2 linked regions of the Homo sapiens genome follow. The protein of the gene in region 1 purifies or fractionates together with the protein of each later gene. This does not show direct contact. Each region holds a gene or a part of one and is shown on either strand. Other genes may lie near its edges. The genes, in order: FBH1 and RPA3.

What was found.
Region 2: the proteins of FBH1 (region 1) and RPA3 purify together in Homo sapiens (affinity purification with mass spectrometry; 2 studies listed by BioGRID, with this or other methods). This does not show direct contact.

The regions. Positions count from the first base shown.
Region 1 is NC_000010.11:5,893,014-5,900,319, forward strand, and holds part of FBH1 (F-box DNA helicase 1), read left to right. Parts: intron 1-963; exon of another isoform or gene 964-1,476; coding exon of another isoform or gene 1,477-1,498; exon of another isoform or gene 1,499-2,042; coding exon of another isoform or gene 2,043-2,174; exon of another isoform or gene 2,175-4,045; coding exon of another isoform or gene 4,046-4,457; intron 4,458-7,306. UniProt on the Homo sapiens protein: 3'-5' DNA helicase and substrate-recognition component of the SCF(FBH1) E3 ubiquitin ligase complex that plays a key role in response to stalled/damaged replication forks.
Region 2 is NC_000007.14:7,635,764-7,638,659, forward strand, and holds the end of RPA3 (replication protein A 14 kDa subunit), read right to left. Parts: intron 2,210-2,896; coding exon 2,101-2,209; intron 1,320-2,100; coding exon 1,237-1,319; 3' UTR 755-1,236; downstream 1-754. UniProt on the Homo sapiens protein: As part of the heterotrimeric replication protein A complex (RPA/RP-A), binds and stabilizes single-stranded DNA intermediates that form during DNA replication or upon DNA stress.

The sequences.
Region 1 (7,306 bases):
AATTGGATGAGGCCGGGCGCGGTGGCTGACGCCTGTAATCCTACCACTTTGGGAGGCCGAGGCAGGTGTATTGCCTGAGCTCAGGAGTTCTAGACCAGCCTGGGCAACACGGTGAAATCCTATCTCTACTAAAATACAAAAAATTAGCTGGCTGTGGCGGTGTGCACCTGTAGTCCCAGCTACTCGGAAGACTGAGGCAGGAGAATCACTTGAACCTGGGAGGCGGAGGTTGCAATGAGCCGAGACTGTGCCATTGTACCCCAGCCTGGACCACAGACAGAGTGAGACTCTGTCTGAAAACAAAAAACAAACAAACAAACAAAATTGGATGATACCTTGAAGCCCCTACCTGATAAAGTCCAATTTCTTTTTTTGAAGCCCAATTTCTTTATCATTATGTGTAAGGACCTTTGTAGTCTGTGGCTCCAAATTCCTTTTCCAGCCTTATCTCCTGTCATTCCTCATCAGGGAACCTCTTGTTTTGATGAAGCCCAGCTTTCCTGCCACTCTAGTGCATTGTTAATGCCTCTGTATTTTTGCACACATTGTTTCCTTCCGCCTTACTGAATCCCATGATTCTTTCAAGACTCAACTCTTCGTGAAGCCTTTTTCAACTTGCCTAACTCTATTTATGTTTCTTTACTATCATAACACTTCATGCATGCATTTATGTAGTTGTTATATTACTTTATCTTTAGTAACTTGTGTTTGTTTTGGTAGCTGCCTTATGGGTAGGCTTATTCACTTTTGTATCACTAATGTCTAAAATAGCATTTAACACCAAGGATACCATAAGACAAAGCTCTCATGGAGTTTAAAATGAATCTGGGACATAGCAGATACGTAAAAGTAGTTGTGGAATGAATTGACTGTAGAAAAAGCCTTTCAAATATATAAAATTATATTCTAGACCATAAGTAGTGATCTTTCTCTTGTTTTTCAAACATTCCTTTCTTTCTTTAGGAAAAACATAGAACGGAAAGCCCAGCCCATCCTTGTTGGCTGTCATACACGAGTGCTGTCTCCAAGGGAGTCACAGGTGTCTCAGATGTGAGAGGATCCCGGGGAGATTGAGCTTACTGCCTGGGAACTTTTGGATTTCTGGAGAAGCAGGCTGTGGTAGCCTGGCTCTGCGTCAGTGAATACCTGGGAAAGGAGCTGGAGCTCTATTTTGCTTGCTTTCTGCATTCGTTTCTTTTAGAGCTAATGGGGACACAATATTTTGAAGTTTTTCCATTTCGGGTCTACAGCATTTAGTGGTATTTTCCTTATAGTTATGTTTTCCAAATACTTCTCAATTTCTTTGGTTCTGACATTTCACAATGATTTTAAAAAAATGTAATATGGAAATTAAACTTGAGGTTTTCAGAAGCTGCTTTCAAGGTGTCTAGATACAGAGTGAAGAATGTCACAGTAGGAAGTGCACTGGACTAGGGGAGTCAGGAGACCCGGGTTCTTGTGTTGGCACCATCACTCATGAGCTACGAGGTGACTTCAGGCAAGTCCTCTCTGAGCCCCAGCTTAATCATGGCACAATTGTAGGATTGCTTTGAGGGTCAGACGAGAATATAGGAAAGAACTGCAAAAGCTGTAAAGCACTTAGGAGCTCTGGGAGAGTTGAGAGCTTCAAAGCCAAGGAAGACAGCCCACACTTCAGAAGAAGTGCTGCAGCTGCACATTTGTTCGTTTAATCAGGAATTGTTTATGAAGCAATGTGTGTTACATGCTGGGTGTGAGTACCTCTCTACTCCTTCCCACTAGAGCAGAGAGCTTTTAGTCTGGGATGGAAGACGTATTAAATACAGACTTATACAAATAATTGTTATTAATATAATATGTAATACAGTGCAATTAAAAACAATAATTCATATAAGACACATGTTAAATGCACACTTACACAAAGAATTGTTACAAGTATCTCGGGTGTACAGGGCGGTTTTATTCCTGCGAAGTGCTTCCTGGCTTGAGTGAATACTTTTATGGTGCTGGAGTTGAGAGATAACACAGTTAACTGTTGAAATTGGGCCATTCCCGTTTCACAGGCTGCCATTGGACCTGTCAAGTGCCTGAGTCATGTGATAATGGGCTACATTGCGCAGGGCCCCTGGGCCATCTCCACAGGAGATGCCAGAGGACGAGTGCCCACTTGCTGGTCTTCACAGAGCACGCTGAAAGTAAGAGGCATGTGGGAAACTGACCAGGGCGGTTAGCTGACTCCAAAATTGTCCAGATTAGCAAAACTGCCCTCTGTGGATCTTTGTTAAAGTTGGGTATGGTATTGTAGCAGTTTCTCCAGTCAGGTACCTTGTACTAGCGAGTCAACTTGATTTTTTTTTGAAAAAGCAATTATTTAATAATAATATTTACTTCCAGGAATTCTAGGTACTTATTGTCTTCATCTTGTCCATTTAGGTCTGTAACCTAAAAGTTTTAAAGGACTTTTTGGTATGAATTCTGATTAGTAAAGGTAGAGGAAGAAAGGAAATTATTTGGTATCCATTTCAAATGATCCTGAATGGTTAGGGTAAGCTTTGCTGCAGTGACAAATAGATCCAGACATGTAATGGCCTCACAATAGACGTTTATTTTTCAATCCCATAACAATCTAAGGAGGCTACAGGTCATGGTGGTGGTTGGAGTTTGTGTGTGTAGGTGTGGGGAGGGAGGGTTCTTTTTAAAGCAGTAGTCCGAGGATTGAGGCTGCTGGAGGCTCTTCTATTTTGAACACCCGGCTTCTAAGGATGTCCTGGGAATCAGCTTCCCAGTTAAGGGGAAGAGGAGAAGAGTGGAGGGCAGGTCTGGAAGAGGCGTGTGCTGCTGCTGTTCCCATTGCATTGGCTGGCACCCAGCGGTAAGGCGACATCCACCTGCACGCAGGACTGGGAAGTATAGCCCAGCTGTGTGCTCAGGGAGAAGAGCAACAACATTCTTTGCAGCAAAACCTGAAACACTCAGTTTCACTTTCTGTGACTTGTTTTGTAAGTTGTTTTCAATAAAGAAGATTAAAAAAAGAAGCCAGGCAAATGAAAGCATAGGGGAGGAGTGGCAGACACGCAGTTCTCACTCTGCGACTGCAGGAGTGTCTCTTGTTTCCCCCTTGTGCACTTTGAGGAATGAGGGGATAGACGTGGTCCCTTCCTTTTAGTTCCCCGTAGCAGAGTTCTTGTAAGGACTCGTTCAGGGGAGACTGATAAGGGTCTCATCTCCATCGGGGGACCTCACCAGGGCATGGAGTGGGTCAGAGTGGGCTGGGAGGGGATAGACTGTCATCAAGGTGAAGAGATTTGAGGGGTGGTGGAGGGCTAAACTCCAGATCTGACCACTTCAAAGTCAGCAAAGGCCAGGAATTGCTGGGGTAGGGCTAAAAGCTGAGGGTTAGCAAAGAGAGGTGGGTCCTGGAATGGGGACCCCTGGGGTGGAGGACAGAGAAGTCACACTGTTAGAAAGCCGTCACAGAAAAGGCAGTGTGGGAATGAGCTTACTTAAGCCTAGGGAATATTCATTTGACAAAATGGTTTGTGTACATTCTGGTTTTTCTACCCTGACACCTGAGGGCTCTAACACATTTCTGTTGGTTATTGTGGAAGAGAGTGTCCAAGGGTGGGAGCACAGATGCCGAATTTGGTGTGTAGGAGACCAATTTCAACAACTCTGGGGGCCTTGTAGAGTTTGCAAAGCCCCGTAAGTGATTCTAATCTCTCTGCACCCACAAGAACCCCTAGTTTAGACACAGCTTCCCTTTATCTGTGGTCATTCACCACAGATAATTTCATTCCCTAAAGAATCACAAGCAGCTTCTAACAGTAAATGCCCTTTACAGGAGGTGTAAAGTGCACTTGCTGTGTAGAGAGGGAGGCATACCATGAGCTTTGCGTGACTCAGGGAAGGAGGATTTTTATGGAAGAAGTAGCATTTGAGCATTCTTATTTTGATAAAGTTATTTTTGAACTGCTTTTTAAAAAGGTATATTAATAAGAATAGAAGGGTGATTAGAATTCTAGTGTAGTGTTTTGGTTTTATTTTTAACCATTTAGCAAGAACATTAATGCTATTAAAACTGATGTGCCTTAGGAGACCCTCAGATTGGTGTGGTAGTCACATATTTCTTCTGACGTTTCTGTTGCTAGGTGTTGACATAGATTTAGAGATAGGTGTTGTCACCCTCAATGTGGGTGGCTTGAGTACTTACATATATATTGTCTCATTCTCTGAATTCAGCATGGCAGGTTATTATAATCCTCGTTTTCATAAGCAAGGCTTTGGCGATGAATATACCTGCCAAGTGTGGGTCTTCTCCTGCACCCCACAGCCTCGGAGGGGCTTTAAGGGAACATTAAGTGTAAAGCGTGTAATTGCAGAGGAGGTGGACACAGGGCTCCTGCGGAGGAGGTGGACACAGGGCTCCTGGCTCCCAGTTCAGAGCATCACAGCACCTCTCTCTGAGACCAGAGATACAGGTTAGTTTTCCTGACCTCCAGCTGACGTTAGAAAAGTTATTTTTGATACATATATCCAATAAGTCCAAGGGGTGGGGAATCCAATAAAAGTGTTAATAAAAATCCAATAAAAGTACCAGCTCTCCCGCCAGCCAAACTATGGCTGGTAACGCCATTCCAGTTATATAGGTTACTTATCTTAGTGCACAGAGGCCAGATCACCAGTCTAAGCGCCCCTCCCCCGGTACCGAACCTCAGTTCCTCCCAGGGTGGCTTCATGCCAGAACATATTGGAATATACCGGGACTCCCTTGAAGCAGAACACAGTGTTCCAACACTCCCATTAGCACTTTCTGTTACTCCTGTGTCTTTGTTAGATTTCTGCAAACACTTAATCTTCGCAACAAGCATTTTGGATTCAGACGTATTTTCTGAGATAAATACATAAATAAAAATCTATCCTGTTCATATTACCTTTTCCAAAGCAGTTCCCTTTGGGACTGAACATTTTTGATGTTCTGTCATCAGTCTGTTGTGAGCTACCAGGGAGGTCTCCCTGTGGGAGCAGTTCTGTAGTATATTCCTAGGGATTAGAGTGTAGGCTCCTGGACCTCCCAGCCGAATTCTTCTCCCTGCTCCTCATCCTTCTTGACCCACTCAGTATTCACAGAACGTGTGCTGCCTCAGTCCATTTGGGCTGGTATAACAAAATACCATAACTGGGCCGCTTATAAGCAGAAGTCTCTCTCACTCACAGATCTGGAGGCTGGAAGTCTAAGATCGAGGTGCCAGCAGATTTGGTGTCTGGTGAGGGCCGCTTCCTGGTTCATAGACGGCACCTTCTCTTTGTGTCCTCACATGGTGGCAGGAGTAAGGGAGCTCTCTGAGACCTCTCTTATAAGGGCACTAATCCCATTTGTGGGGACTCCACCCTTGTGACCTTATCACTTCCTAGAACCGCATTTTTTTTTTTTCTTTTGAGACACAATCTCTCTCCATTGTCCAGGCTGGAGTGCAGTGGCACAATCTTGGCTCACAGCAACCTCCACCTCCCGGGTTCAAGTGATTCTTGGGCCTCAGCCTCCTGAGTAGCTGGGGTTACAGGTGCCCGCCACCACACCTGGCTAATTTTTATATTTTTAGTAGAGATGGGGTTTCACTATGTTGCCAGGCTGGTCTTGAACTCTAGACCTCAAGTGATCCACCCACCTTGGCCTCTCAAAGTGCTGGGATTACAGGCATGAGCCACTGTGCCTGGCCCAGAGCCCCACCACTTCATACCGTCACCTTGCGGGTGAGGATTTCAGTGTGTGAATTTCAGGGACATGAACGTTGAGTACATGGCACAGACTATATGTCTGGCCCCACGCTATCTACATACAGAGTTACAGCAGTGAACCAGGTGGGCTAGCTGCTTACCTTGGGGCATGCTTACTGTCTTTTCGACTCTCAGGCATGTGATGAGACATCTCCATCTCATTGATGGTCATTATCAATGCACCGTTGTTACAGTGAGGTGGCTGCAGAAGGCTTCGATAAAGCCATTCTTACATACTTCACAAAAAACGTTCCAGGGTTCACCCTGCATGTGTAGGTACCTCTTCTATACAAATCTGCCAGCCTCTGTTTGTAGCTGTTTCCAAAAGCCAAATGTAGAAGGCCATCATAGATTTGGGTGGGCATCAGACCCTTCAACTGAGCCTGATTTTCTCACTGGTTATGTGCCTTTTCGTTGACTTTCAGAAGCCTTCGGTACCTGACACACCATTCAGCTAAGCAGGCCTGCAGCTGGCCTGAGGTCCTGGGTCTCAGATATGAGTGGTTTGATGTTGATCTTGCTCCTTTGTGATTTTTTGTTTTGTTTGTTTTGTTTTGTTTTGTTTTTTTCCTTCATGATTTTATCCATGAAAGCTTTTCTTCTCCAGGCCATTGTGGCAGTAGATGTTCACCTCCTATTTAAGTGAGATATTCACTCTTGGTAACTTTCTTTAGTGAGTGTCTCCAGTTATTTATTTTATTTTTTTCCTTTTTTCCTTACCCTTCATCAGGACACATAGTGTCTCCAGTTCTAATTGTAGATACTGTACTGACCAGCTCTGAAGCAATTGGGACTGTTTGAGGAGAGAGAAAAGCAGGCATGAGTCCACTCTGTTGGATCTATAGGGCCTGTGGATTTGCTGCCCGGAGTCCTGCAGCTGCTCCTGCTGTTGAGCATTGTGTGGGGCACCTCACCCAGGATTTTCGGGTGTTCTGGAAGCCATGTTGCCGCTCTACCTGTCTCTTTTGCAGATATGCCCAGAGGTCCCCATTCAGGCAAAATAGTCCTTGCGTTATATTTGTAATATGAAGGGTTTTGAACACAGGAAATAAAATTTCATCTTATTTTTTAAAAAGAGAACAACAAGACTTTGTTTTCTTTCCAATGTAGAAAACTTCAAATTTAGTTTTTAATGTAGAGAAACTTCACATTCATATTTTGTTTCTGTGTGAATAAGATGATTTGCTGTTGTTTTCCTCTAAATAAACTGGTCAGCAACATTACAGAACCAGCACAAACCAGCACAAAACCATCAAAGTGGAGGGGGTGTTTGCTTTTCTGTTCATAATAAGCGAGACATGTTACTGGTTAGTTTAGAAGGTATTTCCAGTAATACAGAATTGGCTGTATTTGGGCTGCTAATACACTTCCTGCTTTGCCATTAGGTGGCATCTTTATAATTTGAAGGATATTTCAATGTCTTAGGCAGGCTACTCACATAAGCCTTGTTAAATAGAGGAAACAGGTAAGTTTGTATGCATGCAGTTGGATAATTTGACAGACAGTTTTGAGCATATTTTCTCATCTGTTCCTGATGACACTTATCAGACTT
Region 2 (2,896 bases), on another chromosome or scaffold:
ACAGGTGAAAAGAATAAAAAGAAAGTCAAATGATTCCACCAACTCTTTCAATGATCATATATTCCTTGTTTGGAATTTAGTAAATGCTATTTTAAAACCCAGGAAGGCTGGGCATGGTTGTTACACACCTGTAATCCCAACACTTTGGGAGGCTAAGGCGGTAGGATTGCTTGAGGCTAGGTGTTTGAGTCCAGCCTGGGAAACACAGTGAGACCCCATCTCTACACGGAAATTTAGGAAAATCTAGCTGGGCGTGGTAGTGCCCACCTGTAGTCTGAGCTACTTGGGAGACTGAGCCCAGAGGTTCAAGGCTGCAGTGAGCTATGATTGCACAACCGTATTCCAGCCTGGGCAATAGAGTGAGATCCTGTCTCTACAAAAACAAAACCAAACCAAGCCAGAAAAAGAGATACTTCACAGATTACAGAAGATGTAAGATTCTGTTTGCCTTTTTTTGAGACAGAGCTTCACTCTTGTTGCCTAGGCTGGAGTGCAATGGTGCAATCTTGGCTCACCGCAACCTCCGCCTCCCAGGTTCAAGTGATTCTCCTGTCTCAGCCTCCTGAGTAGCTGATATTACAGGCGCATGTCACCACGCCCGGCTAATTTTTGTATTTTTAGTAGAGACAGGGTTTCATCATATTGGTGAGGCTGGTCTCGAACTCCTGACCTTAGGTGATCCACCCGCCTCGGCCTCACAAGGTGCTGGGATTACAGGAGTAAGCCAGCGTGGCCAGTCTCTGTTTGCCTTTTTAATGTCATCTACTTCATTTTGTAAGTAGGGTATCAAGGAAATAATTATCAAGGTATAGTTTGGGAAAAGGTGAGCAAATCCTTAACACAGCTGGCCCAAGGTTTTATTTGGTAGGTCTAAATCTTGACCTTATGGCTATGAAATTTCAAGTTTGTGCTTGAATACATGATTAAAAGAATGAAAATGAAATGACCGATAGTACGTACCATTTTAGTTTTTATTAATAAAATAGAAACTTAGACTCGGACAACTGCTTTATTCTTGCATCTAATCTGACCATATATTGGAGTAGCAATTCTTTATAAAAGGACTTCGGTGAGAACTGTCAATATATCAGTTCCATCAAAAACTCTAGGTTGGAATATCTTAAAAACAGCAAATTAAATATGAGAAAGCACAGAAATCTCTCCCTCAAACAAGAAGGGCTTCCTTTAATAGACTTTAATATAGCTCATTTACAATCGTATGAAAATCCATCAAGATCAATCATGTTGCACAATCCCTAAAGGATAAAACTGAGGGAAGTCATGGATAATTTTCACAGCTTCATTGTAAAGTCCAAGATCTGAAAGAAACATTTAAGCAAACATTTAATCTACAATGGAAAGTTGTAACATCAATTATTATCTAAGATATTTTTACCTATTTCCTTTTTCTCACCCTTTTGGAAGTGAGTTTCTAAAAATGGAGATATGGATTATGGATTCTTGTATTTAACTGTGGCACCAAAAAAAAGACATGGGAGTACCATCCATTTTGATGTTCATTATACAGGCAGTTTCTGCCTGGTAGTGTTTTGGGTGTTATGCATTATTCAATTCCTTCAATTCAGATATTACAACAAAAAAACTAATACTATTTTTGTTATATTTAAAAAAATTATCTTTCAACAAACATTAATTAATCTTTACTGAGTTTCTTACATATATAAGCACTACTTAAAAGCAGGCCAAAACAAAATGTACCCCCATTTGCCTTTACGATCACAAAATTCTATAGAAATTGAAAATGTGGCAGTACTAAAACTCTAGACCAATATATATCAAACTAAAAATAAAACTGTTTTCCTGTATGTTTATGTTATGTAATTGTATGTAATACATACAATTTTGTATGTAATACAAAATGTATGTTAAAACATAGTTATATAAAACTGTATGTTATGTAATTACATACAGTTATATAAAACTGTATGTTATGTAATTACATACAGTTATATAAAACTGTATGTTATGTAATTACATACAGTTATATAAAACTGTATGTTATGTAATTACATACAGTTATATAAAACTGTATGTTATGTAATTACATAAAACCAGTCAATACTAGAATGCTTTATTTACCAAAAGGATGGCTATCTTCTTTAAACTGGACATAAGATGTACACAAGATGGTGGCCTTGGCGGTTACTCTTCCAACCACTTCCACAATTCCAGAGATTTCTTCATCAAGCTAAGACACAGAACAAGACATCGATTTGGTGATATCACATTTTCAGTTGACAATTATTTTGGAAAACTGTTATACAGGTTACTAATCTATCACTTCAAGTAACAAAGTAATTTTAAGAATTACCAGTGTAAAAGTTAAAATGTAACTTGTTAACAAATGTTTGAGTACTTAACTGTCAGCATGTTAAAATTCCTGCTACCTTTAGCAGTAGCTTCAAGTCCAAAGCTACAATTCAAGTTAAAGACAAAATCACTATTGAAAACGTCCAGCATTTCTATAAGCAGTAATATCCTATGAGAGGAATCTTCTATAATCTGTATTTCACAATGTGTTCTGTATACATTAACCAAACAGCATATGGATTTGTCTTCACAAAATACCAAAAAAAGTTTTAAGTATGTTAAACATAAAATGCAAACATAAATAAGTAAAAACTGGAAATATATGAACAAAAATAGAAAATAAAATAAAATCGAAAACTCTTGAGGGGCTGGTCGAGGCAGGAGGATTGCTTGAGACCGAGAGTTCAAGACCAGCCTGAGGAACATAGGGAGATGCCATCTTTACAAAAAACAAAACAAAACAAAACAAAACAAAACAAAACAAAAATTAGCCAGGCATGGTTAAGCATGCCTGTAGTCCCAGCTACTGGGGAGGCTGACATGGGAGCAACTTGATCTTGGGAGG